2 separate regions of the Homo sapiens genome follow, and region 1 is linked to region 2. Evidence: fine-mapped expression QTL. A gene starts in region 2. The other region holds a variant in brackets. All regions are shown on one strand. Distances are between the middles of the regions. Region 1 holds the start of DERL3 (derlin 3). Region 2 holds the start of MMP11 (matrix metallopeptidase 11).

Region 1 (12,027 bases), 71 kb after region 2:
AGAACAGGCTGCCCAGGAGTCCCAGCAGCTGGGCCAGAGTCAAGGTGCTCCGGTGCAGGCCTCAGCCCAAGCCCAGGGCCCCTCTGACTTCCCAAGACCCTGGAATTCTTCCCCTCATCTCCCCTATGTGCTATTCCCTCATCAAGATGAGCCAGTCCAATAAAGGCGACACACTCCACGGGCTTCAGGTCCCACGAAATCTGCCCTGCACACCTACAGCCTCATCCCAGGGCCCAACCACTGCCTGTCCCTGCCCCAGTTTCTCCCGGCTACTCGCATTCAGGGCTCAGCTAGTGGCCCTGACAACCCACCTGGCTCTTTTGTGCATGGCTTTGTATTTTGCATACAGCACTGAAGATCTAGCCCTGACCCCTGCAGCTGAGCACAGAGTGGGCCCTCAACACATACTAAGCTGGAGACAGCGACTGTGTCCCTCTCTGGCATGGCTGTGTTGGCCCCAGGACCAACACAGGCTGGACGCCGAGGCGCCCTAGCCCGAGGTTCCAGAGCCTGCGGGAAGGATACGGTCATAAGGACGCCCCCGAAGAGAAACATGAAGACGAAGTCGGCCGTGCGGCCGCGGAAGGAGCCCTCTTCCAGCATGCGGCAGTAGCGGAACCTACGGCGTCGGTATAGGAAGTGCCACCAGGCGGGGCCTCAGTTTCCCCGTCCCGGCCTCTCTCCCAGCCCGGCCGGCCTGCCCTCCACCCAGCCCGTGTCCGCAGGGCGCAGGATACACGAAGAGCATGTTGAAGAAGAAGCTGAATCCCAGGGGCCCGAAGAAGAGGAAGTTGGTGACGAGCCTCCAGACCTACGGGGGACGGGCGGTCAGGTGCGGGGTGGGTGGGTCGGGCCCACAGGTGCGCGGCGCGGGGCGGCCTCACCTGGAACTTCCGGAACACAAGGTGCGGGTTGAAGTAGAGTTGAAAGGGGCTGAGGAGCTCCAGCTGCTGTGGAACCAGGGGCCAGTCAAGAGCTGCCCGGGAGCCACGCCGTAACCATGGCGACCCTCACCCCTCCCGCCAGAGGCTGTAACCAAGGCGACGTCCGGTCCGCCCGGCCGCTTACCACCGCGGCGGTGGTGAGGACACAGGCTGCGGTGTAAGCCCGCGTCACCGCCGGCACCTGCAGGAACTCGGCCGCTAGTCCCTGCCACGCCATTGAACCTTCTCAAGCACGCGTGGCCCAGCCAGCAACGCGCTCTTTAACCCGCCTCCCAGCCCCGCCTTCGGCCAATCCGCATCCGAGGCGCTGCGCGCCCCAGGCTGAAAAGAGAGCCCCTGAGCCCGACAGCCAATGGAAGGAAGAAGAGGGAAATTAGGGGCGGAAAGGGAGAGTGGGCGGGTAGAGGCTGGTGGCCAATGGGCAGGCGCCAAGGTTGAGCACGTGGCGGTTGTTGTGGCTGCGGTGGTGGCGCGGGAGAACGTGTGGCCAATGAGGAACTGGTCATTTCGCGGCTTTCTAGGAGAGGACCAGTAGCGTGGACCCACGACACCACGGGGGCGGGGCTAAGATCGTATGGGTTACAGGAGCGAAGACCCGAGCAGGCGAGGCAAAACTGGAAAGGGCGGGGCGCGTGGGCGGGGCGCGGAGTGTGGCGGCTCAGACCGTGCTGGCTCACTAACTGACGACCTAGCCACAACGTTGTCCTCGCTGCCAGCCCAAGACAGGCCCACCTAACCCACAGCAGGGAGGCATTCGGGAATGTGTCCAAACCTCCCCAAACGTCCAGGGCCCCACTCAAATGTGCCGGCCGCTGTCGGGGTTCTTCCCCGGGGGCCCAAGGAAGGAGAGGCAGGACTGCGGGATTGAGTCCAGGTGGGGCGCGAGGGTTGAGAGGCGCACCAGAGCAAGTGGACAGGCAGGAGAGGTCCTCAATATTTTGGTGGAAAATAGAAACCAACCTACCCACCTTCCTTCCCTCCTTCCCTCCCTCCCTCCCTCCCTTCCTTCCTTCCACCGTTTATTAAACAACTGTTTGCCTGACACTGTTCTAGATGTTGGGGATGTAGCATGCAATAAAAGACACTGTCTCTTAGAGTCCAGCCAGGAGGCAGTCAATACAATAAGCTAGTGCTGACACTTGATGAGAATATTGCCAAGTGAGGGGTGGGGCCACGTGGGCGTCCGCAGTGCCAGGTGGGGTGACCTGGGATACCTCTAAAGTTTGTCACTTTGCAAGCATCCCTGTGTCCATCAGGATGGTAACTGTGAAAAGCAAAACAATAAAACAAAATAAGTGTTGGCGAGGATATGGGGAAATTGGAACCCTTGGGCACCGTTGGTGGGAATATAAAATGGTGCATCCGCTGTGAAAAACAATATGATCATGACTCAAAAAATTAAAAATAGAATTACCGTATGATCCAGCAATGCTGCTTGTGGGTACACATTCAAAAGAATCAAAAGCAGGGACTTGAACAGATGTTCATACACCCATGTTCATGGCCCCATTATTCACAATGGTTCACATCAGTTCACCCACCGATGAGACAGACGAAATGTGCTGTCTACATGCAATGCAATACCATTCAACCTTAAAGGAATGAAATTCGGATACATGATGCAGCATGGATGACCCTTGAAGACATTACACCCAGTAACATAAACCAGTCACAAGGCTGGGCGCAGTGGCTCACACCTGTAATCCCAGCACTTTGGGAGGCCGAGGCGGGTGGATCACCTGAGGTCAGGAGTTCGAGACCAGCCTGGCCAACATGGTGAAACCTCGTCTCTACTAAAAATACAAAAATTAGCTGGGCGTGGTGGCGGGCACCTGTAATCCTGGCTATTCGGGAGGCTGAGGCAGGAGAATTGCTTGAATCCGGGAGATGGAGGTTGTGGTGAGCCGAGATTGCACCACTGCACTCCAGCCTGGGCAACAGAGTGAGACTCCGTCTCAAAAAAAAAAAAACCAGTCACAAAAAGACAAATACTGTATGGTTCCACTTATATGAGAGGGGATCAGGGAGTTATTGTTTAATGAGTGCAGTTCCAGTTTGGGAAAATGAAAAAGTTCTGGAGATGGATGGTGGGGAGGGTTGCATAAGAATGTTTAATACCACTGAACTGAACACTTGAAAATAGTTTGGACAAATTTTATGTTGTGTATATGTTACTAAAATTTAAAAAAAAACAACAAACCTCTGTGTTTGCTGTCAGGGTAGTGGACTGCCAGAGGAATCCTTGAGCAGGGGGAATCCTTAAGGGACAGTGATTACTTTCGGGGCTGGGAGGTGGAACCTGGAGGACAAGGAGGGGTGGGATATGGGTTTGCCTACAGACGGGACAGGGCTGAGAGGGGAGTCCAAGTGGATTCAGAGGCCTGAGCCGCAGAGTGGTTGGATGGTGGTGGTCTTTGTTGAGATGGAGGGCTCGTGGGGAGAAGGTGAGGGGCATAGAGGGTCCTGTTCTGGACTCATCGAATTTGAGGCATCTGTGTGACATCACTTGGAAAAATCTGAGTGTGGTGTTGGGGTAGGGGTTGGAGCAGACAGTCTAAATGTGGGTGCCGTCATCCAGTAGTAGATCAATGGTATTTGTAGCTTTGGGCGTGTGTGAGATGCTCAAGGGGCAAGGGTTGATGGAGAAAAGAGGCCAGGCCTGGGTAGCCTGACCTGCAGTAGCCAGGGAGGGAAGGCAGCCCCAGCTGGGGAGGCCAAGGGAGGCTGAGCCAGGAAAGGGCTTCAGGAGCCAGGCAGTGAGAATCCAGGGAGACGTGGCCCGGGAAGGGACTGTGAATTGCAGCCATGCCAAGGTTCCTGGTAACCAGGATAATGGCAGGCAGGAGGGAGAGGAAGGCACACAAATGGATGTGCCTTAACAAACAAGGGGAGTGCAGCCTTGGAGGGAAGTGTGGAAAACGAGGGATGCTCTGGACAGGGCCCTGAGGTCCCCCGAGGAGACTGGAACTGGCCAAGAGGGAGAACTGGCTGAGAAGGCTCTCAGGTGGATCCCAAGAGCGTGAGGGTCCCACAAGGGCCCTGAGAGGGGTTCCCTGGGGAGTGGGGTGAGACCAGTGCCTAATGACAGTGGGTTCAGGAGCCTTCCTCCCTGCTCTGGAGGGGACGGGGAGAGCCTGGAGTGCTGGAGGGAAGTGCATTTGCTGGAGGGATGTGAGGAGAAGGTCTGGCCTCATACAGCAGGGGTTGGACCAAGACACTGAGGGGTTGGGGGCTGGGAGCAGGGTGAGCGGACCCCCGCAGACAACCTTGGTTTTCCAGCAAAGCAGGCTAAGGTCATGTTGGAAGCATGCCAGGCAGAGCAAATCCCACCCTGGCAGCCACAGTGTGCAGCAGGGCGGGGACCCAGGGCCTCTGACGCCTGGGCGGGCGCCCGGTGGGCACAAAGGAGCCGGTGCAGGAGGTCGGGTTTCATGTCAGCGTGGGGAAGGGGAGATATTCCTCCTCCAGGCACTTAGCAGGCGCTGGCCGGCCCTCAACTCAGGGTCAGGCTGGGGCTAACAGGAGGGGATGTCATTGTCGACAGGGGCGTCTGTCTCCCCTTCGACTGGGGGCCGATAAGGCAGGCGCCCAGATTGGGGGCTGAGAAGCACATTCCTGGGAGGCCAGGAGCCTGGGGCGGGTGGGGGAGGCCAGCCAGGGCTGGGAGGGAGGACATCCAGGGAACAGCAGCTGGGTCCACTGCAGAGGCTCCCTTTCCGGAGCCCCGGGATATCCTCAGATGGGGGAACTGAGGCACGTAAGGATGCAGAACAGGGCCTGGGGCAGACCTCCATTCTTTCTTGTCCAGTCTGAGGCCCAGAACAGGCCACTCTGGAAATACTAGGTCCACTTCTCCTTGGACCCTTGAGCCCCTCCAGATAATTCTTTATAGAGGGAAGCCCTGGGCATCCCAAGTTCCCAGGGTCCTAGAGATGCAGGGTGTGCCTTACCCTAACATCAGGGTGGCAGACCTGTCGGCTGGGCCAGCCTTCTTTCTCCTGTGCTGAGGATGGTGGGTGGGTGGAGACCTGTGGTTCCTCGGCAAGGTGACAATGGGCTCTGCTCCCCATGCCACCTCCCTGGCATTGTGACGCTTCCTGCTGACTCCCAGAGGACACCTAGATCTCCTGTCCAGGCCCTCTCAGTGTCTGTAGGCAGGATAGCGCCCTCTGCATACTCTCCCCACCCAGCTTTCCCCCTCACTGGCCTCACACACTAGGAGGGGCCATCCTCAGCCCCCAAGCCTGGAGTCAGCTCTATACCCTCAGCCCCATGTTGCACTTTTTTTTTTTTTTCCTAGAGACAGGGTCTTGCTCTGTTGCCCAGACTGGAGAGTAGTGGCGTGATCACAGCTCACTGCAGCCTCAACCTCTTGGGCTCAAGTGATCCTCCCACCTCAACCTCCCAAGTAGCTGGGACAACAGGCATATGCCACCATGCCCCGCTAATTTTTTAATTTTTTTGTAGAGATGGCGTCTCACTGTGTTGCTTAGACTGGTCGCAAACCCCTGTCCTCAAGCAATCCTCCCTTGGACTCCCAAAGTGCTGGGATTACAGGCGTGAGCCACCACGCCCGGCCCCCTATGTCACACTTGATGCTCCCATGGAACTCTCTAGTCCTTTCCCTTCTCTCCTATGCCTTACCACCACCACTAACTCTTATTCAGGCCTCAGGTTCTCTCCTCTAATATTGTCCCAGCTCTCTGAACTATTCATTCTGTTAAAAAAAAAAAAAAAAAAAAGAGTAAGGCTGGGTGTGGCGGCTCACGCCTGTAGTCCTAGCACTTTGGGAGGCTGAGGAAGGCGGATTGCCTGAGCTCAGGAGTTCAACACCAGCCTGGGCAACATACAGAAACCCCATCTCTACAAAAAATACAGAAATTAGCCAGACGTGCTGGTGCATGCCTGTAGCCCCAAGTGGGAAGGGGGAGAGAGCCAGGGGGCTGAGGCTGGAGGATCGCTTGAGCCTGGGAGGTCAAGGCTGCAGTGAGCAGAGATTGCACCACTGCACTCCAGCCTGGGTGACAGAGTGAGACCCCGACTCTTAAAAATATTTTTTAAAAAATGTTTCCTGGCTGGGCACATTGGCTCATGCCTGTAATCTCAGAACCCTGGGAGGCCAAGGCCGGTGGATCACCTGAGGTCAGGAGTTGGAGACCAGCCTGGCCAACATGGTGAAACCCTGTCTCTATTAAAGATACAAAAATTAGCCAAGCAAGGTGGTATGCACCTGTAATCCCAGCTACTCAGGAGGCTGAGGCACGAGAATCACCTGAACCCCGGGGGCGGATGTTGCGGTGAGCCAAGATCGTGCCACTGCACTCCAGCCTGGGCGACAGAACAAGACTCTGTCTCAAAAATAATAAAATAATAAAATAAATATGTTTCTTAAAAGCAAAATAAATAAAATTAAAAAAATAAGAGAGGAAGAGCAGAGGGTGAAAGTGCCTCCTACTCCAGGAAGCCCTCCCTGGTCACCTTCAAAGGGACCAGAGCTCACCTACTTCTGTTAGAGTCCTGAGCACTTAATTTTTAAATATATTTTATTCTAAAGGCAGTCCATGCCTGTTGTAACTAACCACAAGAATCAAACAAACTGAACGTTTGTGTACCTGCTGGTGCAGCTGTATTTTCTTCTTGATGACACATAGTGCCTTTTGGGCCCTGAGCACTTGTCCATTGGGGGACCTCTCCCCTCTTTGAGCACGGGGCCCACCCCCTTTGAGCACAGGGACCCCTGCAATTGCTGTGAGTAGGCTTCCAGCTAGCCCCTCCCAGAAACAGCTGTGTCCCCCTTGGCCCTTCCTGTCTGGGCCACAGGCTATTTTTAGCACTGAATCCGGAACCCACATAGCAGCAGCTGCT[T/C]GTGGCCGGAGCGCAAGAACAACAAACCATCCAGGTGGGTTGTGTCAGGCTGCAGAGGGAGCGGCCTGGGCCTGGCCCTCTGAACCTGGTAGCAGAATCTGGACTTTCCAGGAATAAGCTGGTCTCTGGGTGGGATGGGGAGGGAGGAAGCAGAATGGGGCAGAGGATGGGTTGCACTAGCTAGGCCAGGATAGGGGAAGGGCCTGTGCAAAGGCCCTGAGGTAACTGGGGGAGAGGAAGGGAGCAGAGGAGAGAAGGTGAAGGAGGCAAGGAAGAAGAGTTGCTTGTGACGGGAGGGAGAAGCGGGGCCAGGCCAGGCAGAGGTGTGTCGGCCGTGGTCTCTGTCCTAATCAGATGAGCCGGGGAGGAGAGCGGTGGCCTGCAGTGGCTTGCATTAACAGCGAGGGAGTGGAAGGGTTAGGATGGCTGAAGCCACAGGCCTTAGTGAATGCTTGGTAGTGGGGGTGAAGGTAGGAGGGGTCCTGGCCTACCCAGCTTGGGGGACAGTGAGCCCCCACTGGGTGGAGACATGGGTGAATGGCCAGTAAGGGAGGGAGACCACTCGTTGAGTCAGGCAGGTGAGCTTGGGGTGCTGTGGGGTGGAAGCCCTCCCTGGCCTCTAGCCCAGTCCTCCCAGCTCCTTCCCTTCCGTGGCCCTGGTCATTCCTGCTTCATGCAGAAGGGCTGCAGTTGTCCACACAATGGCCCCTCTAGGCCTGGTTTCTGCTGCGGAGCTGGCACAGGCAGGGGCTTGGTAAACAGGGAAAAACAGGGAAACTTGTGAAGACAGAGACCTGGACTCCAGGGCTGGAAATGCAGCCTCGGGGCTGGCATTGTGACCTGAGCACTCCCTTCCCTCTCTGGCTCTGTGTCCCTCTCTGTGAGATGCGGGTCAGAAGGGTCCATGTGTAGAGTCTCTTTCAGCTCCAAGGTTGTACTCTGATCTATAATGGGGGTATCAGAGATTTCTGGGTGGAAGCCCCTTCCTGTAACAAACACAGCTGGCCTCCCCATCCAAGGCCCATCTCTGCTATGAATAAGTGAATGCTTATGAGCAAGAATGCACCAACAGAGGAAGCTGGAGGGCCCCTGCCAGTCCTCTCTGCCGGATCTGTTCCTCGCTGTCTCCTCTCAGCCAGGAGCCTTCATGGGCCTATGGTCAGGAACAGCCAGAGAGGCCTGCAGGGCTGGGGAGGGAGTCGCTGTGGGTGCCTTTTTCCTGCAGGAGCTCAGCTTCTGGCCAGGGGAGGAGACACTGAATCCCATACCAAGCAGGGAGTGGAAATGCACTGGTGAGTGGTCCAGGGCAGCCGTGGGGCAGGAGAGCTCCTGATGAGGACAGGAGGAGGAGGGGATGTGCTAGGCAGGGACAAAGGCTTAAGCAAAAGTGGGGAGGCAGGAATGGGCCCGTGTGCTGCTCATGGACTAGGCAAGGACCTGTGAAGTGCGGGAGATAATAGCTGCTCAGTGATCTATAGCCAGACTGCACCATGGCTTTTATTAAACTCACCGAACCCTCATCACCACCTGATGAAGTAGGTTACTATTACGGATGAGAAAATAGGCTCAGAGAGGTTCAGTAAACTGCCTGAGGACACACAGCTAAAGAGGCACAAAATCAGCAGTCCTGGCTTTGCCACCATAACGGGTGATGGAAGGGACCCATGCGGAGGAAGTGAGCTATCCCTGACCCCATCACTGGGGCACAGGGGAGTGAGGGACATCACCAACCAGCTAATGCTGTGCAGCCCCAGACCCTTTTCCAGCTCCGGTTTGGAGGTGAGAACTTTTTGCAGCCTCTGGGCTCCCAGGGAGCGTCTCCAACATGAGACTCCACTCCTGAGCTGCCTCCCTGCTGTCTGGGCCTCGTTTTACTGTCTCTGACCCTTCATGGCTGATGAAACTGTCTCCATTCAGCCCTCAGCTGCGGGACCTGCCTGAGCCTGTGTCCTGACTGTCATGACCCAGAGCAATTGCCAGGAATTCCCACTTCCTGCTGTGGCCGCTGCCAGAATGTCAAAGCCACCTCCGGCCAAGCACCCCAGAGCTCCAGAGCATCTGGTGGGGGCTTCCCCCTCCCCTGCCTCAGCTATTTTCAAGCTCAGCACTGTGGGCGGTGTAGGGGGAGAAGCAGATTATCTGTTTGGCAGAGTCAGCCATATGGCAGGGCCAGGGATATGAGTTCACAGAGACAAAACCTGAGACAGCTCTGTCTTTGACTTCGAAAAAGCCTGGCGGAGTGGCGTGTGGCTGTAGTCCCAGCGGAGGCAGGAGGATTGCTTGAGCCCGGGAGTTCGAGGCCAGCCTGGGCAACAGCGTGACACTCCATCTCTACGAAAACAAAACTAATCTTTAGGGACTGGGGCCACCACTCTGGAAGGCCTTGCCCAGGACTAGTGACTCAGAGCCATGGGTCTGGTGGAAGGAGAGGTTCAGAAAGGCCTGGGTTCAGCCAGGTGCGGTGGCTCACGCCTGTAATCCCAGCACTTTGGGAGGCTGAGGCTGACAGATCACCTGAGGTCGGGAGTTCTAGAGCAACCTGACTAACATGGAGAAACCCGTCTCTACTAAAAATACAAAATTAGCTGGGCATGGTGGTGCATGCCTGTAGTTCCAACTCTTTGGGGGGCTGAGGCAGGAGAATCGCTTGAACACGGGAGGCGGAGGTTGCGGTGAGCTGAGATCGTGCCACTGGACTCCAGCCTGGACAACAAGAGCGAAACTCCGTCTCAAAAAAAAAAAAAGAAAGAAAGGCCTTGGTTCACCCCACCTCCACTGGCTTGCATCCACTGATAGCCCCACCAAGCAGCCAGGCCCTGCTCCCATGAGTGAGGGGCATGCTCCCCGTGCCAGGTGATTGTCCAGCCGCTGGGATGGGAGGCTCCTAACGGTGGGCTGAGATGACAACCCAGGTGACCCATCCTTTCACAGTGACACCACCAGGGCCCCTGCCTCCACGTCCTCCTCCAAACACTCACCCAGCCCTCCAATGCCCTTCACTTTCATGAGACTGGGGGGCCTCTTTAAGAAAATGAATGCAAAACAGCCGGGCGCGGTGGCTCATGCCTGTAATCCCAACACTTTGGGAGGCCGAGGTGGGCGGATCACCTGAGGTCAGTAGTTCAAGACCAGCCTGGCCAACACGGCGAAACCCTATCTGTACTAAAAATACAAAAATTACGAAAATTAGTGGGGTGTGGTGGCAGGCTCCTGTAATAATCCCAGCTACTCGGGAGGCTGAGGCGGGAGAATTGCTTGAACACAGGTGGCGGAGGTTGCAGTGAGCTGAGATCGTGCCATTGCACTCCAGCCTGGGCAACAAGAGTGAAACTCTGTCTCAAAAAAAAAAAAAAATGCAAAACAAATGCAAGATTAGGTCGCAAAGTGAGTATTTGAAATGCAAACAAATGACCAATTTGGTTGCCCCGTTGGAGAGAAGAGAAAACCGAGGCTGCGGCACGGGGAGGGCTTCCTTGGTGAGGGCAGACGCAGGAAGGCACACCTGTCCCACTGCTTGCGCATCCCAAACCTGCAGAAGGTGGTCCAGCCACAGCGGACTGGCTGCTGTGGCATCTCCCCACCCCCTTCCAAGAGGCCCTGCTTAGAGGCCCCCTCCGCCCCAAGGAATGCAGGCATCAGTGCTTCAGACTCTGGCCTAACCACCGTCCCCACCTCCCAGGCCCCCACCCTTTCCCTCCAGATGTGGGCACAGCTGTATTTTTAGAACAGCCGACCACGAGGACATTCTTTCCTTCTAATTAAGATGGCTTCAAATCTCTCATCTGCAATCAGCCCCATTGTTCAGTCCTCAAACATCAAAGGGTGGCCAGGAGGGGCCGCCTCAGCTGGTTGTGGGGTTGGGGCTTGTTTTCTTTCTTTCTTTGTCTTTGAGCCATTACGCTGGAAATGAGACCCAGAACCGGAGTGGATGCCAGCTCTGAGGAGGAAGAAGCAGGCCTTTGGGTAGTTTGCAGGACCTGCCTGTCTGCACCCCTGCACCCTGTCGCCAACCTTGAGTGAGGTTGTCCAGCTAGGCTGCAGCCCCCCAGTGCACCCATCTGAGGTTAGGGTCTGTCTGGGACAACTGCGGGATCAAAAAAGGCCCTGTGTTGGCTGGGCGCGGTGGCTCTCGCGTGTAATCGCAGTGCTTTGGGAGGCCAAGGTGGGCAGATAACCTGAGGTCAGGAGTTCGAGACTAGCCTGGCCAACATGGTGAAACCTCGTCTCTACTAAAAATACAAAAATTAGCCGGGCATGTTGGCTCACGCCTGTAATCCCAGCAAGTCGGGAGGCTGAGGCAGGAGAATCGCTTGAACCCCGGGGGCAGAGGCTTCAGTGATCATCAGGCCTCCTGACCTCCTCCCTCTCCCCCGCAGGAGGCCCCTGGTGTAGGACAGAGATGCCCACCCACGTGGGGGCAATAGGAAAGGCTGCAGGGAGGAATGGCCTCTGGGTAGCCTTGAACCGTGTTACAGTCCTCCGTGCTACAGCGCTCTCAAGCCCACTGACAGATGAGGAAACCGAGGCTCAGAGAGGCCAACAGGCTGGCCTAGAGCTGCTCAGCCCACTAGCAGTGAGGTGCTCAGGAACGCTAGGTCCCCGCAGTCAGCCGTGCCCTGCACCCCTCACTCATCCCCAGGGATGGACCGGGCCTGCTGCTGCCTGAGCCTTGGCTCCAGGTAGGAGGCACCTGTCCCACCCCGCATGGAGCAGAGAGGAGAGCCACGCAGGCGGGCCGAGGCCGGATGGGACTGGCGTCAGGCTTCTCAGCTCCCCAGGGTCCTGGCCCACCCGGCCCCGCGCGGCTGGATGTGAGGACAGGGCAAGTGAAATCGCACCGGGGCGGGTGGCGCAGGGCAGGAGGCTGCAACTCGGTACAACGGCCAGGACTGGAGCGCCCAAGAGCTGAGGGGCAGGGAGGGCAAGGCAGAAAGGGGAGCCTCCCCAGATGAAGTGCCCCCTACCCAGCGGCGCCTGGGCGCAGGCCTCCTTTGTGTCACCGCCACCACTGAACCTTCGCGAGTCGGCGGCAATCGCTGGTGCTGGGTTCCGCAGAGCCCGGGCTCTGTCGCCCCCTCGCGGCCGGAGCCGGTCTGGGCGGCGTCGGGGAAATCCCGAAAAGCCTGCGGGGAAGAAGCTGAACGGGGGCGGGACCCGGGCGCGGTGAGCCCATTCATTCCCCGAGGGCTGGGAAAGTCTCCACCAGGAGACGGAATCC
Region 2 (9,962 bases):
GCGGGGCCTCAGGAACACGCCCCCAGCGGGAGGCGGCACTGCCCCCAACCCTATCCCCCTTCTCCCGTCCTCCGGACATCTCCCTTCCAGCAGCTCCGGGTCTCGGCTGGAAATGGGACCCTGCTCCCTCCCTGCGCCTGGCAGGCTGTGCGGGTTCTGGGGACAGGGGCCAGTGTCGCAAAGCGCCGAGGGCTTAAGGAGGGCGACAGTGCCTTCTGTTAGGACCACCGCAGAGGGCAGGGAGCGGAGTTGGGGGTTGTTGCGAGCCCTGGAGGGGAGAGGAGACGGGGAGGCGACGGGATGGGGCCAGCTGGGAAGGGGACGCGAGGCTCCAGGCTGGACTCCGCTCTCTGCCCCCTCCCGGACTCGGCTGTCTGTCCCCTCCCTCCAGACAGGGTCTGCTGACCACCGCGTGGCCTGGGAGTCTCCGGTGGCCTAGGGAAGTGAAGCGCGGCCCTGGGGAAGGCCTGGAGCAACCCATCCCCAGAACTCCCACGAGGGGGCGTCCCAACCCGTCTTCGACTGTTGGCCAAAATGCGCTGCCAATGCTGGCAGCCTTACGCAGTGCCCGCGGGGGATATGAGGCCCCCCGCGCGGCCCTGAACCCCACCGGATTCCCCGGGCCGGCCCGACCGCCCCCACCTAGTCCCTGGCCCCGCGAGTGCAACCCCCGACACTAACGGCCTTTACGCGACATCCGAGCAGCGTGTCTATCCCAAAGGCCTAGGAGCATTTGCCCGGCTCGGTCAAATCTAGCGCAAGTTTGAAGCCTGCGGCCTCGCAATTTTAGCAGCTTCGTTCCAGGCCAGGTGAGCTGGAGCGCGGATTTAGAATGCTTTCCTGCTCTTCGAGAACTTGAGGTTTTAATTTTACTTTTTACTTTTTTTTTTTTGACACGGAGCCTTGCTCTGTCGCCCAGGTTGGAGTGCAGTGGCGATCTCGGCTCACTGCAACCTCCACCTCCCGGATTCAAGCAATTCTCCTGCCTCAGCCTCCTGAGTAGCTGGGACTACAGGCTCGTGCCACCACACCTGGCTAATTTTTGTATTTTTAGTAGAGACGGGGTTTCACCATGTTGGCCAAACTGGTCTCCAACTCCTGAGCTCATGATCCTCCTACCTCAGCCTCCCAAAGTGCTGGGATTACAAGCATGAGCCATCGCGCCCGGCTGAGCTTGAGGTTTTTATGGTCTTTTCTGGGTGACTTTGCAGTGGTCATATTATTACTCCTAGGTGGGGGAAGGTAGGGACTGTCCCTCATCACTGCTGTGCCTGCAGAGGACTCCTGACACCGGGATTGTCGGCAGGGTGCAACCAAGAGCAAAAGCACCCAGAAGTGGGGGTGTGGGTCACCAAGTAAGAGAGGAGGCCCCTCCATAAGGAAGGAGCAGGTCAAGGGGCAAGGGGAGTGGTGGCTGGGGCGTTTGGCCCTGCCTGGCATGCTCAATTCTGTGTGTGCACAGCTGTCCCCAGCCATGCATGCTCTCCATGGAAGTCAGGTGCAGCCCTGTGTTCTCTCACACTGCAGTCCTTTCAGCCAGCCTGTGAACAGGGCCCTTCCCCGCCCTGTCTTCAGTTTCTCCTCTCTGAAGGGGGGTGACCACCCACCTTGAGGGTGGCCTCCCAGTGAGGTGAGCACACCAAGGGTGGGCCATTCTTTCCTGGCAGACTCACCAGGCCTGGTCCAGCCGCTACTCCCTTGTTCATGCAGTCCATGCCACCTGGTTCCTGTTTGCCACACCAAACAAACTGAACACTTCTCATGGTGGTCCCCGGGCCTAAACTGCAGAGAGTTGTTACTTCAGCTCCCATGGCTGATGGACTGCAGGTTCCACAAAGCATGGCCTTGCACCTCGGAGGCACCCAAGACCACTTAAGTGGGTTACACAAATGAAAATGAGGCTGAAAGGATGACACTGAAGCAGGCATTGAAATGCCAACTTTTTTTTTTTTTTTTTTTTGAAACGGAGTCTTGCTCTGTCGCTCAGGCTGGAGTGCAGTGGTATGATCTCCACTCACTGCAACTTCTGCCTCCTGGGTTCAAGCGATTCTCTTGCCTCAGCCTCCCGAGTATCTGGGACCACAGGCACATGCCACCATGCCCCGCTAATTGTTTGTTTTTTGTTGTTTTTTTGTTTTTGTTTTTGTTTTTTTAAACAGAGTCTCACTCTGTTGCCAGGCTGGAGTGCGGTGGTGTGATCTCAGCTTACTGCAACCTCCACCTCCCGGGTTCAAGTGATTCTCCTGCTTCAGCTTCCCAAGTAGCTGGGACTACAGGCACGTGCCACCATGCCCAGCTAATTTTTTTTTGTATTTTTAGTAGAGACAGGGTTTCACCATGTTGGCCAGGATGGTCTCTTGTGATCCGCCTGCCTCAGCCTCCCAAAGTGCTGGGATTACAGGCATGAGCCACCACGCCTGGCCTGAAATGCCTACTTTTTAAAAATGAGTCACTTTAGCGGGGAATAGTGGCTCATGTCTATATCCCAGAACTTTGTGAGTCCCAGGCAGGCAGATTGCTTGAGTCCAGGAGTTCGAGACCAGCCTGGCCAACATGGTGAAACCCTGTCTCTACAAAAAATACAAAAATTAGCAGGGCATAGTGATGCACACCGGTAGTCCCAGCTACTTGGGAGGCTGAGGCAGGAGGATCGTTTGAGCCTGGAAGGCGGAGGTTGCAGTGAGCCAAGATCACACCATTGAGCAAGACCCTGTCTCAAAATAATAAAAGTAAATAAAAGTGAGTGACTTTAAAGAAAAGATTGCCTTTCAGGCGCGGTGGCTCACGCCTGTAATCCCAGCACTTTGGGAGGCCGAGGCGGGTGGATCACCTGAGGTCAGGAGTTCAAGACCAGCCTGGCCAACACGGTGAAACCCCATCTCTACTAAAAATATAAAAAATTAGCTGGGCATGGTGGCGGGCGCCTGTAGTCCCAGCTACTCGGGAGACTGAGGCAGGAGAATGGCATGAACCTGGGAGGCGGAGCTTGCAGTGAGCCGAGATCGCGTCACTGCACTCCAGCCTGGGCGACAGAGAGAGACTCCGTCTCAAAAAAAAAAAAAAAAAAAAGAAAAGATTACGAACAGTGTAGGTTGTAAAAATTACTGCTGTCTTACTTCTCCTCGCCCTCTAGGAGTCTCTGTGGAGTCTTCTTGAATAAGCTGTGAAACATTTCCCCACCCGCTTCCCTTTCTTGGCCCAGGCTTCCTGACCACAGCCTCACCTTTGAGCAGCTCAGAGCCCTGCCTGCCAGGATGCGAGCCACTGCCTGGATCGTGGCTCTGCAGGGCCACCCATGATGGAACAGGTCGCCTGGTGAGGTGGTGAGGCCCTTCATCATTTCAGGGGGTGTACAGCAGTACTGGGTAACCCCGAAAATCAGGGATGAGACTGAAGGATCCCTTCCAGAATGTGGACACAACCCCTCCTTTGAGTCTCACCTCCTTTCCTTCTTTTTTTTGAGATGGAGTCTCGCTCTGTCACCCAGGCTGGAGTGCAATGGAACAATCTCGGCTCACTGCAACCTCCGCCTCCCGGGTTCAAGTGATTCTCCTGCTTCAGCCTCCTGAGTAGCTGGGCTTACAGGTGTGTGCCACCACACCTGGCTAATTTTTGTATTTTTAGTAGAGACAGGGTTTCACCATGTTGGTCAGGCTGCTCTCCAACTCCTGACCTCGTGATCCACCTGCCTCGGCCTCCCAAAGTGCTGGGATTACAGGCATGAGCCACTGCGCCCGGCCTCTCGCCTCCTTTCTTTCAAGTCTGAGGTGGCTAGCCTGGAGGGGTCCCCAGGGGCTTGTTGGGCACTGACGAGGGGACACCCTGGGGGCCCAGTACTCCACTCAGACACCTCCCACAGCCTTCTGACAGCATCCTTCCCACAGCTGACCAGCTAGAGGACCTCCTGACCCCTCCACTTGTCTGCTGGTGTGGAAAAGCCTGGACCCTCCCTCTTGGAGCCTCAGTTTCCCTATCTGTAAACTTCGGTCTATCCCAAGCTGAAGAACTGGCCAGTCCCTGCCATATGCCTCACTTTCCCCTGGGACACATTTTAATATCCCTTTCCTGGCCAGGTGCAATGGCTTCCCCATGTAATCCCAGCACTTTGGGAGGCCAAGGTGGGCAGATCACTTGAGGTCAGGAGTTCGAGACCAGCCTGGCCAACATGGTGAAACCCCATCTCTACTAAAAATACAAAAATTAGCCAGGCATGGTGGCGCACGTCTGTGGTCCCAGCTACTTGGGAGGCTGAGGTAGCAGAATCGTTTGAACCTGGGAGGCGGAGGTTGCAGTGAGTGGAGATCACACCACTGCACTCCTGCCTGGGAGACAGAGTGAGACTGTGTCTCAAAAAATAATAATAATAAAAAATAAAATAATATCCCTTTCCTCACAGGGGCTATTGTGTCATCTTCTAGAAGGATCCGTTGAGGCTCTGAGGGGTGGGGGAACTTGCTTGTGGGTAGGACCACCTGTCAGAGGTCAGAGGTCAGGCCACCAAGGAGACCCAGTGGGATGCGCCTTCCAAAGGTGGGGGTACGGATGGGACCCATGAAACCTGACTCCTCTCAGACTCTAGCCAAGTCTAAGACTTTGGACGGCCACCACCCAGAGGAGAAACTGAGACCCAGAGCGGCACGGGTTGGCCAGGGTCACCCAGCACCAGATAGGGACTTTGCCAGCCCCGGGGCAGGACCCTGTCTCCGGCCCTCGACCCCGCTGGGCCGTACCCTCCCCGTTCACCTCCCCCACCCGGGCCGCGGCTGCTAGGAGAGTTCAGAACAAAAGGCGGCGGGGGGCGGGGCCGAGGCGGGCCGGGGGTGGGGCGGAAGCTATAAGGGGCGGCGGCCCGGAGCGGCCCAGCAAGCCCAGCAGCCCCGGGGCGGATGGCTCCGGCCGCCTGGCTCCGCAGCGCGGCCGCGCGCGCCCTCCTGCCCCCGATGCTGCTGCTGCTGCTCCAGCCGCCGCCGCTGCTGGCCCGGGCTCTGCCGCCGGTGAGTGCCCGCCACTCGCCGGCCGCTCCTCGCTGAGGGGGCGCCGGGCACGCGGGCTGGGCCCAGCGGCGGATCCGGACCGAAGGGGGCGCCCCGGGTGGCCTCCAGCGCCCGGTACCCGAAACGCTTTCTGGTTCCCTCTAGGCGTGATAGACAGCGAGCTTGCAGTCCCTGGGGGTGTGAAGGGGAGCCGGCGCCGGCATCGTTCGGGCTGGTGGGACGGGACTCCACGCTGGACTCACGCTTGCTCCCAGCGTGGGGACCTGCCTCTCGCGCTCCAGCCGCGGGTGCTGGAGTGTGCGTTGAAGGAAGCAGCAGAGGGAGTGGTAACAGGGCCCCCTATTCATCGCAGGGACAAAGCCGAGCAGATCCCAGGCAGGTGTCAGCCTGCAGGTGTGTGGCCGCAGTTAGTACACCTCCAGGTGTGCGGTGGGATGAAGGATAAAGGGAGAAGGGAGGGCAGCGCTGTGCTGCGGGAAATGGGGTCTAAGCCTGGAGATGTCCCCCGCGGGCACCTGCCGGCAGCAGTTTTGGGAGGCTTGGAGCCAGGAGAACATGAGTATGAAATAGTATGAGTGCAGTGTGTGTGTGACTGAGAGGTGGCTGTCAGAAAGAAGCGGGGAGAGAAAGGAAAGGGAGAAAATGTGTGCTCAGGAGAGGAGAAGAAAGCCCAGGTAAGAGAGGACAGCAGAGTGAGGAGAGGAGGGACTGTCATGGAGTGTGTGTGACAGCTTGCATGTGTCCCAAAAGCTGCCCCTTCCCTGGGGCGCTTCCAGGCACCAGTCACAGGGCCTGGGGCCAGAGCCTGGGCCACTCCACTCCACAGCGGAGGCATCCAGACAGCTCGGGCAGGGAAGGGAGCAGGAGGGTGTGACAGGCAGGAGTCTCAGGACTGGCCTGGTGAGGAGGCAGGCCTGGCCAGGCTGGGACCCTCTGTCCAGCCACTCTGGCTCTGCTCAGGGCAGCCTTGTCCTGTGCTGGCTATGGGAGCAGAAAGGGATGGGATGGGTGGGGTAGAGTGAATGGGGGGCATCTCAGTCTGGAGTCTTGCCTCCTTCCCAGCCCCTCTTGGTTCCTAGGACTTGGGACAGAGTCAGGAATCACTGTGGGTAGACATTGAACCACAGGTCTGGAAATTGGAGAGATCTGGGTTTGAACCATGTGACCCTGGGTGAATCCTGCCATGCCTCAGAATCTCACCCACTCCATCTCTAATGGGAGTGCAGGTGGGAGGGGGCAATGGTGCCTACTGCTGTGTCCACTGTTGAGCAATGAGGTGATGCCAGGCTCACTAGAAACACTGTCACCTGTAGCTGCCACTTTGACGCTTGTGCATGGTCAGTGCTGGAGCTGGGGGCCAGCTTGGGGTGGGGTCTGAGCTGGACTGTGGTCTGTCACTCTGCAAACACGCAGGGAGCATGTGGGGTCACCTCTGATGTGTTTATCCCCCGGCTGCCTTCAGCAAGGCTGGGAGAGCTCTGTAAATATTTATCCAGCCCAGTTCCCAGCTTTCAGGGTTGATGGAAGCCCTGCAGTCCGATGGATGGGACGAAGCTACCGTCCCTCCTGGAGCCAGCAGCAGAGGGGTGAGAATAGGAAGATTAGGTGGAAGCTTGAGGGAGAAGATATCCCTGCTTGCCACCTGGCTGTGTGAGTTGGGCAGGTTGCTTGACCTCTCTGAGCCTGCATGGTGATGCTCCCGTCTTCCTCCATAGCCTAACAAGTGCCCTCCTCGAAGTCTTGCCTCCCACCGACATCAGAAGGCATAGCTATGATTAATTATACCCACTAGACCAACTGCAAACTGAGGCCCAGAAAGGGGCACAATGAGCCCAGCCTTTCGCAGTGTTTCCTGGCACCCTGGGGTCCTCCCTTATCTCCCCTCTATCTGGTGCCTCCCATTTTCTGGATTGCAAGTTGACCCCAGGGCGGGGTTGACTCCGAGTCTCTAAGCTCTGCCAGGACACTGGGTCAGCTGAGAAATTCCTTGAATGTGTCTGCAGCTGAGGTTTGGTGTCTGGCAGAAGAGGGTGGGGCTGAGTGAGCTAAGAACCCACCACAGGGCAGGCCAAGGGAGGCTACTGGCCAAGACAGAGGGAATGCACTGGAAGCAGAAATGCTTCTTGGGAAAGTGGGTTTTGGAGAAAAGCCAAGAGCTGGGGAGACAGGGGGAAGCCCTGGAGGTGGGAGGCATGAGCCCCAGGTCTAGGTCCAGCTCTTGCATGACTTGCTGTGTGACCCCGGGCAAAGTCCTTGAGCTCTCTGGGCTCTGTCTCATCCTCTGGGAAATGGGGGAGCTGCTTCTTCCTCAAGCTCCCCAGGGGTGTAGATGAGGCCAGTGGTGGCCTGTGTCTACCACCTCACCTCACTGAATCCTGAGAGTCCTGGGAAGGCCAAGCCCACCTGTCTCACAAGTAGCAAGCTGCTTCATGCCGTGCCTTGTAGTTAGGGCATCTGGCCCCAGGCCAGAAAGGACTTGGAAAGATGAAGTGTGGGAGGACAGTGAGGCAGAATGTGTGTCCTATCCCAGCCATGGGGAAACTGAGGCCAAGAGCTCATGGGCTCTAAAAAAATAATGGGCTCTAAAAACAACCTCACTAGCTAGAGGCCTCATTTCTAGCATCTCCTGCTCACTCAGTTTCTAAGAATTTAATGAACAAGACAGGGACAGGGAGAAGAGACCTTGATATGTGGGAGACCCTGCACAAGGCGCTTCTCTTTTCTAGGCCTGAAAGCTCCCTTCTAGCTGCAACTTCTGTTTTACCATTTAAAGCCTGAAGATTTTGTTGGGTAGCTAGAGGGGCGGTGGGTGATGGGAACTGTAGGGACTGGCAAGGGCAGATTCCCAAGCGTGGGAGGGGAGGGCCTACAGGGACAAGGAACAGGGCCAGGTAAGAGGTGCTTTTCTGTGCCAGAGGCTACAGCAGGCATTACAGAAGGATGTCATGTAGCCCTTTGCTGTGGCATCATTCCCATTTGACAGATAGGAAAGTTGAGGCTAAGAGAGGAAGGTGACTTGTCTAGAGTCTCCATGTCATAGAACTAGGCCTTCTGAACCTCAGTGGCTGGCTCTTTTTGTGACACTAAGACTGTCATGATCCAGGGGTTTGGGCATGGACTGGGTGCCTCATGAGGGAAGGACAGGAAGGGACAGTGGAAGGGGTGGGGGCATGCCCGTGGCTCTCCCTCCATGACTGTCTGCACCAGGACTCACTAGAGGGCAGAGGAGAGAAGAGATTTCTGACCATGGGCATAGCAGGGCTGGCAGGCTGGGCTCTGGGTTGTTTGGAGCTCCCAGGGGAGAGCACAGCTCTGCCCTTTCCAGGGAGGGTCTTCATACCCCTGCCAGGCTGGGGAAAGGAATCTGTTTCTCCTGTAAGTCAAGGGGGCAGTGTGGCGAGGAGGAGGAGGCAGGCCCCTCTGGCAGCCCACATCCTCCATGGGAGAACTTGGATATGTAGCATCTCCACCTGCCTGGTGGATATTGGAAGCCCAACGAACCTGCCTGCAAAATGCCCGGGAAATAGCAGGCGCTGAATAATTTGCACCTCACCAAGGTGAGGCCAGCCTGGGTCCCTCCTTCAGGGGAAGGGTAACTCAACCCCTGCAGAGCAGAGCAGAGGTAGCAGGGAGCTGGGTGGGCTGTGAGCACAGACAGTCCGCTGCCTGCCAGCTGTTGTCTGATCAAGCTGCTTAACTCCTCTGGGGCCCATTTCCTCATCCTGGAAATGAGGGTGATGATGGTGGAGTTGGTGAGAGGTTCCATCAGGGGCTAAGAGCAAGTCTGTGGAGCTGTTGCCAAGGTCCTAGCCTGCAACCAGTGCTAAGTACTTTTTTTTTTTTTTTTGAGATGGAGTCTCGCTCTGTCACCCAGGCTGGAGTGCTGTGGCACGATCTCGGCTCACTGCAAGCTCTGCCTCCCAGGTTCACGCCATTCTCCTGCCTCAGCCTCCCGAATAGCTGGGACTACAGGAGCCCGCCACCACGCCTGGCTAATTTTTTGTATTTTTAGTAGAGACGGGGTTTCACCGTGTTAGCCAGGATGGTCTCGATCTCCTGACCTCATGATCCGCCTGCCTCGGCCTCCCAAAGTGCTGGGATTACAGGCGTGAGCCACCAGGCCCGGCCAACCAGTGCTAAGTACTTATTAACAATAAGCCCAGGCCGGGCGCGGTGGCTCACGCCTGTAATCCCAGTACTTTGGGAGGCCGAGGCAGGTGGATCATGAGGTCAGGAGTTCAAGACCAGCCTGGCCAAGATGGATAAACCTCATCTCTACTAAAAATACAAAAATTAGCCAGGCGTGAGGCTGGGTGCGGTGGCGCATGCTTGTAATCCCAGCACTTTGGGAGGCCGAGGCAGGCGGATCACAAGGTCAGGAGATCGAGACCATCCTGGTAACATGGTGAAATCCCGTTTCTACTAAAAATACAAAAAAATTAGCCGGGCATGGCAGCAAGTGCCTGCAGTCCCAGCTACTCAGGAGGCTGAGTCAGGAGCATGGCATGAACCCGGAAGGCGGTGGTTGTAGTGAGCCCAGATCACACCACTGCACTCCAGCCTGGGCGATAGAGCGAGACTCTCTCTCAAAAAAAAAAAAAAAAAAATTAACCAGGCGTGGTGGCAGGCACCTGTAACCCCAGCTACTCGGGAGGCTGAGGCAGAGAATTGCTTGAACCCGGGAGGTGGAGGTTGTAGTGAGCCGAGATCGCGCCACTGCACTCCAGCCTGGGCAACAGAGTGAGACTCCATCTCAAAAAAACAAAACAAAAAACCAATAAGCCCAGAATCGGCCAGAACCCACAACCCAGTGAGACTGCGCTGTGCCAGGTAACCATGCAATAAGCAAGCTCGGAAATGGGGGGAAGCTGCTTCAGGGCCTCACGCCCTAAGTAGTTCCATAGCCTCCGTGTTCAGAAGGCCCCCCTTCATGGTGGGGTGTTCTTGATGCCTCAGCTCTGGGATCAG

Evidence for each region. PIP is the estimated chance that this variant, and not a neighbour inherited with it, causes the effect.
Region 1: its variant is fine-mapped to the expression of MMP11 in whole blood (TOPMed, PIP above 0.99).

What each region holds. Positions count from the first base shown.
Region 1 is chr22:23,837,827-23,849,853 of GRCh38, forward strand. SMARCB1 (SWI/SNF related BAF chromatin remodeling complex subunit B1) reads left to right here. Exons shown (of 9, transcript NM_003073.5): 9 at 1-183. DERL3 (derlin 3) reads right to left here and starts at 1,180. Exons shown (of 7, transcript NM_001002862.3): 1 at 1,069-1,180; 2 at 885-950; 3 at 738-811; 4 at 526-619; 5 at 1-28. The coding sequence starts at 1,161. RefSeq lists a silencer at 1,103-1,405 and enhancers at 4,384-4,941, 6,556-7,049, 9,952-10,709, 10,710-11,465, 11,466-12,027. The variant T/C (reference allele first, on the strand shown) is at 6,810.
Region 2 is chr22:23,767,985-23,777,946 of GRCh38, forward strand. It overlaps MMP11 (matrix metallopeptidase 11), which reads left to right and starts at 4,865. Exons shown (of 8, transcript NM_005940.5): 1 at 4,865-4,994. The coding sequence starts at 4,887. It overlaps LOC107985577 (a long non-coding RNA gene), which reads left to right and starts at 242. Exons shown (of 3, transcript XR_007068022.1): 1 at 242-809; 2 at 3,203-3,323; 3 at 3,885-4,393.